2 separate regions of the Homo sapiens genome follow, and region 2 is linked to region 1. The links come from fine-mapping of genetic effects on plasma protein levels. Region 1 holds a variant in brackets. A gene starts in the other region. All regions are shown on their forward strands.

Region 1 (2,912 bases):
TCTCTATAGATCTATAGAATACTGGCTGTTAGAGACTGCTGTGTCTAGCAGGGTTCTAAGCACTTTCACATACATAGGCATATTCACTTAATCAGACTTCACAGGTGCTGCATTATTTTTTTGTTGTTATTGTCTTTACTAATCGTGGCAACCTTGTGTTGGGCAAGTCTATTGGTGCCATTTTTCCAACAGTATGTGCTCATTCCATTGGCATTTTTTAGCAAGAAAGTATTTTTTAATTTTTTTTTTTAGAAACAAGGTCTCGCTCTGTCAAGTTCTGTTCATAGCTCCCTGCAGCCTTGAACTTCTGGCCTCAGTTTCCCAAGTGACTAGGACTATAGATGCACATGCACCATTCCCGGCTAATGTTTTCACTTTTTTTGGTAGGGGGTGAATCTCGCTATGTTGCCCAAGCTGGTTTGGAACTCCTGGCCTCAAGCAATCTGCCCGCCCCAGCCTCCCAAAGTGCTAGGAGCATAAGCCAGCATGGCTTTAATTAAAAAATACAAAAAAGTATTTTTTAATTAAGATATGTACATTGTTGTTTTAGACATAATGCTACTGCACACTTCATAGACTACAGTACAGTATAGTATAAATACAACTTTTGTGTGCACTGGGAAACCAAAATAATTTGTATGACTTGCTCTACTGCAATCCTCACTTTATTGCAGTGGCCTGGAACCAAGCCTGAAATATCTCCACATCTGTATTAACTCATTCAATCCTGGAGTTTGGTGCTGTTGTTATCCGTTATGTCCATTTTGCAGATGAGGAAACTGAGATCAAGAGAAGATACTGTATCCAAGGTGGCAAAAGAAGCAGAAGTGTGATTTGAACCCGGGTCATCTGTATTCAGGGTTCACACTGTGAAGATGACTCTGTGATTAGCAGAAGGTGGGGTGGGGTGGGACAGGGAGAGCACACATGAGGCTGGGGGTCTTGATGGGGCCCTGAACGTGGTGAGCCTTGTCCTTTCTGCAATGTGGACTCTGTTCCAGGATAGTAAGGGTCATGGGCATTAAAAGGAGGAAGGACATATTCGGATGCCCTTCAGGAACAAAGATTATCTGTAAATGCCCAAATGCTTATAGCTGGGCATGACTAGAATAAAAATTAGTCTTTTGAGAAGGGATCAATCTGTAGGTTGATTTCTGGAAGCACATAGAAAATTTCCATCCTTCTGATGGCCCCTCTCTTCTTGGGACATTGGCATTGTAAAGGCCTCTGGGCCTGGCCACAGTGGTTCACCATGGAAAGCCCCTTCTTTCTGGGAAGAATGTCTCTGCTGCAGCCAGACGGTCTTCCAAGCCGGCAAGGTGGGAGGCCTGGCTCCTGTTCCTGCAGCTCACTCATGTCCTGCCACAGGCCCATTTATCACGGGCTCAGTGAGGAACCACAGGGATAAATGCACCTGTCAATTACTCAGCCTTTACGATGGGCCAGACACCGTACCCAGCTTTTTGAGTCCTCGTGTCATTTGAGTCCTCACAGAACTCTCCCAAGTGGGTACTATTACTACTTCCTTTTTTACAGATGGGGAAACCAAGTCTCAGAAAGTGTTATTCCCACCTATTTC[C/A]TAAAATCTCTGAAACCCTGCCTATCCTCTGCTCTCACACCCGAACGGTCAACACAGAAGACTTCTGTGCCCACACACCATGCACCAGCTGGGTGTCCTCCAATTTAATTCTGACACCATCTACCTGGAGACAGGGTCAGTTCCCACAGGTTGAGAGATCAGTGCCCCAGACTGCCCCCAACTCCTACCCCAAACACAAGCCTCAAGTCCGGGTCTCTGCAACTTCTGACCAACTGGCTTCAAATTGGGTTCCCATGACCCCCTTTCTGGGCTCAATTAATTTGCTGGAAGGGCTCACAGAACTCAGGAAAACATATTTACTGGTGCAAAGGATACAGATAGAGAGATGCGTGGGGGGAGGTATGGGGGAAGGGGCATGCTACCCTCCAGGAACCTCCAGTGCTCAGCTATCTGGAAGCTCTTCCAACCCAGTCTTCTGGGGTTTTATGGAAGCTTCCTGACATCAGCATTCCTTCTCCCAGGGTACAGGGTAGGACCCTCTCTGGGGAGGATCTCAAGACCCACAGTCAGAAAGTCAGGGAAAGATTAGAGTCCTGTGTTAGGGCAGGGGAAGGAAGGCAGGAGAAAGTTGGAGACATCCTGTGTCCTGAGGCCTGCCACACCCAATATTATCACAAAAGGCTGTAACAAGGGCTACAAAAGAATGAGCCAGGAACTGTGGAGGAAATCCAATAATCATCCTAACACTACACTGCCTAAGCTCCAAGGGCTGGAGAAAAGCATCCAGGAGGGGTGCCAGGCTTGCAGAACGCCAGGCCCATTCTCTGGAACCCTCTACAGCTTGCACATCCCTGCAGCATCCATCTCCCCTGGGGGCCGGGATTGGCCCCACTGAATCAAGAAAACAAGGCCCTGCATGAATGAAGGTCACGAGGCTGGCAAGCAGCAGAGGCATCTGGAATCTTGTTCCTACAAACACAGGGCCCGGCTGTCTTGGATCTTTGAGCACCCAGGGAGGGCACTTCCTGTTGCCGGCTGCCATGGTTTCAGCTGTCCGGTGCCTGACCTTTCTAGAAGATGGTAATGATGAGAGTTGTGACTGCAAAGCCTCTAGCCAACAACTGAGAAGAGCTACACTCTGAGGTCTGGAAGGTCTGTGCGTCTTCTGCTCCATTTTACACATGAGACAATAGGGGCAGGGAGGGGCTGCATTTGAGGGCACTGCGGAACCATGGAGGGCTTCCGAAAGATCTCTCTAGTGAAAGCTGGAGGAAGAAAGTATAGGCAGAAGGAGCAAACAGCAGGCCAGACTAAGTTCCATGACAGCAGAAACCATGTTTTTGTTTTTTGCTGCTGTATCCGAAGTACCCAG
Region 2 (2,912 bases), not on the chromosome of region 1:
GTATGGGTCAAAGAAAATGCTATGATTGAAAAATTGCTGTTTTCCTCCTCAAAAAGCTCATACCAACCAGGAAAGAGCTATCAGAAAACCTTCAGGAAAGAATATAATGATAGGATATAACAAATACCCCCACAGCTGGTCCATAGACCAAAGTATAATTCCAAGTAGGGAATTTCACTTAACGAGGTAAGGCATTTAAGGGAAAAGGAATCTAGGCTAGGACTCTGCTAGCCAGACCCAGATAAATTATTACAGGGAAGCATGTTCTTGAGGCTATTCTCTATGAAGAAGGGCAACCCACCTTGCCATCTATATCCTTTCTGTTTTCGACAGGGGTGGTCCTAAGCTGGATAGATCTTTACTCTGACCAGTACCATATAGGTCTGTGGTTCTCAAACCTGGCTGCACAGTGTGGCACTTTAAGTAATCCTGATACCCAGTCCCATCCCCAAAGATGCTGATTTAATTTGTCTAAGGTGCAGTTTGGGCCTCTGGATTGGAACCAACCCATATACCCATCAATGATAGACTGGATAAAGAAAATGTGGCACATATACACCATAGAATACTACACAGCCATAAAAAAGGATGAGTTCATGTCCTATGCAGGGACATGGATGAAGCTGGAAACCATCAACCTCAGCAAACTAACATAAGACCAGAAAACCAAACACTGCATGTTCTTACTCATAAGTGGGAGTTGAACAATGAGAATACACAGACACAGGGAGGGGAACATCACACACGGGGGCCTGTTGGAGGGTGGGGGTTAGGGGAGGGATAGCATTAGGAGAAATACCTAATGTAGATGTTGGGTTGATGGGTGCAGCAAACCACCATGGCACGTGTATACCTATGTAACAAACCTGCATGTTCTGCACATGTATTCCAGAACTTAAAGAATATATATTTATATATGTATAAATATATATGAATATATAAATATAAATATATATATAAGCTCCCCACGTGATTCTAATGTGTGGCCAGTCTTGCAAACCTCAGGCTATTTATTCTAAAGGGTTTGTAACAAGCCTTCCTCTTAAAATCCACCCCACCACCATTCAGCGTTTTGGGGTCTGTTTGTTTTTATTGTTATCCCACCCCACACCGCCCCGAGGCGCGCGCGCGCGCGCGCACACACACACACACACACACACACACACATACACACACGCACACTGGTGAATTTCTCTCTACAGTCAGTCTGGAGTAATCCCAAAGTGGTGTCTTTCGTAAATAAGGAGAACCCGGGTGAAGAAAATGACTCCCACCCGAACAAGGCATGAACAATGTTCACTCCCTACTGTGTTATTCAACCTGTTTCCCCAGGTCTCTGTTTTCACATTAGAGAGTGTTCTAGGAGATGACGCCCTTCCTCCTTAGTTATTTCCCCACCCTCGTGCTGGCCTTTGACAGACCTCCCAGTAGAGGGCCCAAGACGCGGGTAGAGCACCGCGTCTCAGCGCCTGAGTCTCAGCCCCCGAACTCCACCGCACCTGCAGGTCCCCTTGGCAGCACTCAAGCGCGGGGATGCTCCGCTTAGACGAACTCACGTGCGGGCAGCAAGGCCTGCGATACTTGAGCACCCCTCCCCCTCTCCCGTTTACACCCCGTTTGTGTTTACGTAGCGAGGAGATATTTAGGTTTCTAGAAGGCAGGTCATCGCAGGCCCCACCCAGCAGTGGAGAGAGTGAGTCCCAGAGGGTGTTGCCAGCGAGCTCCTCCTCCTTCCCCTCCCCACTCTCCCCGAGTCTAGGGCCCCCGGGGCGTATGACGCCGGAGCCCTCTGACCGCACCTCTGACCACAACAAACCCCTACTCCACCCGTCTTGTTTGTCCCACCCTTGGTGACGCAGAGCCCCAGCCCAGACCCCGCCCAAAGCACTCATTTAACTGGTATTGCGGAGCCACGAGGCTTCTGCTTACTGCAACTCGCTCCGGCCGCTGGGCGTAGCTGCGACTCGGCGGAGTCCCGGCGGCGCGTCCTTGTTCTAACCCGGCGCGCCATGACCGTCGCGCGGCCGAGCGTGCCCGCGGCGCTGCCCCTCCTCGGGGAGCTGCCCCGGCTGCTGCTGCTGGTGCTGTTGTGCCTGCCGGCCGTGTGGGGTGAGTAGGGGCCCGGCGGCCGGGGAAGCCCCTGGGCTGGGTGGGAGGTCCAAGTCGGTCTCTGAGACACGCACAGGGGCCGGCGACTTGGCAGGTGGGGAGCTTGGCCCGCGGTCGTGGTTCCCGCCGTCCTGTGCCTTTAAGGCTCTCGCCGCTCACCAGCATTTGGGGCTCCTGCTGTGTCGGCCCCCAGCTGACTTGGCTTTAGGGGTCGGCGTGGAGGGTTAAAGAGGCCCCGGCTGGGTTTGCGGAGCAGCCAAGCCTGGCAAAATCGAAAGGGAGGGCTCAAAGAGACTGTATCCTTAACCCCCAAAAAGCTGGTCTAAAAGGATGGGAGGCCAGACCGCTGACCGTTCCCCACTCTCGACAGAGTCCAGCCGTGTGGAGCACACGATGCTGCAAACTTGCATGTCATCTCTTTCAGGTGTGGCATTTCAAGGGGGCTTGTGTCTTGAAAACAGCAACTGTGAGGACACTTGATAGTCATTTCCTTCAGTTCTGCTTTTGTCTCCCTAGGTGACTGTGGCCTTCCCCCAGATGTACCTAATGCCCAGCCAGCTTTGGAAGGCCGTACAAGTTTTCCCGAGGATACTGTAATAACGTACAAATGTGAAGAAAGCTTTGTGAAAATTCCTGGCGAGAAGGACTCAGTGATCTGCCTTAAGGGCAGTCAATGGTCAGATATTGAAGAGTTCTGCAATCGTAAGTTCTTCATCTTTTTAGAAAAGTTCTGGGAATGGAATGTATCTTAAATTTATTTTTATATACCTTTGGAGTGACTAGTAATTGATAGTTCTCTAGCG

Alleles and levels. Positions count from the first base shown, and alleles are read on the strand shown. Strength reflects both the effect of a copy and how common the allele is.
For the plasma level of the protein whose gene starts at base 1,922 in region 2, allele C in region 1 goes with a lower level than allele A (weak association).

Evidence for each region. A credible set is the group of variants that fine-mapping cannot tell apart. PIP is the chance, under the fine-mapping model, that this variant and not a neighbour inherited with it causes the effect. Protein levels are from antibody-based Olink assays in UK Biobank. Linkage for the fine-mapping came from a reference panel and not from the study's own genotypes, which makes the PIPs less certain.
Region 2: CD55 starts here. The variant in region 1 is the best candidate, but not a certain one, in a credible set for the plasma level of the CD55 protein (UK Biobank, PIP 0.61).

Annotation. Positions count from the first base shown.
Region 1 is chr8:133,535,287-133,538,198 of GRCh38, forward strand. The region is part of intron 2 of ST3GAL1 (ST3 beta-galactoside alpha-2,3-sialyltransferase 1); the gene reads right to left. Among named protein-coding and RNA genes, the nearest start is that of ST3GAL1-DT, 34 kb to the right of the region's middle. The variant C/A (reference allele first, on the strand shown) is at 1,580.
Region 2 is chr1:207,319,757-207,322,668 of GRCh38, forward strand. CD55 (CD55 molecule (Cromer blood group)) reads left to right here and starts at 1,922. Exons shown (of 10, transcript NM_000574.5): 1 at 1,922-2,109; 2 at 2,626-2,811. The coding sequence starts at 2,010. LOC107985251 (a long non-coding RNA gene) reads right to left here and starts at 2,373. Exons shown (of 3, transcript XR_007066838.1): 1 at 1,930-2,373. RefSeq lists an enhancer at 1,348-1,557 and a silencer at 2,118-2,197.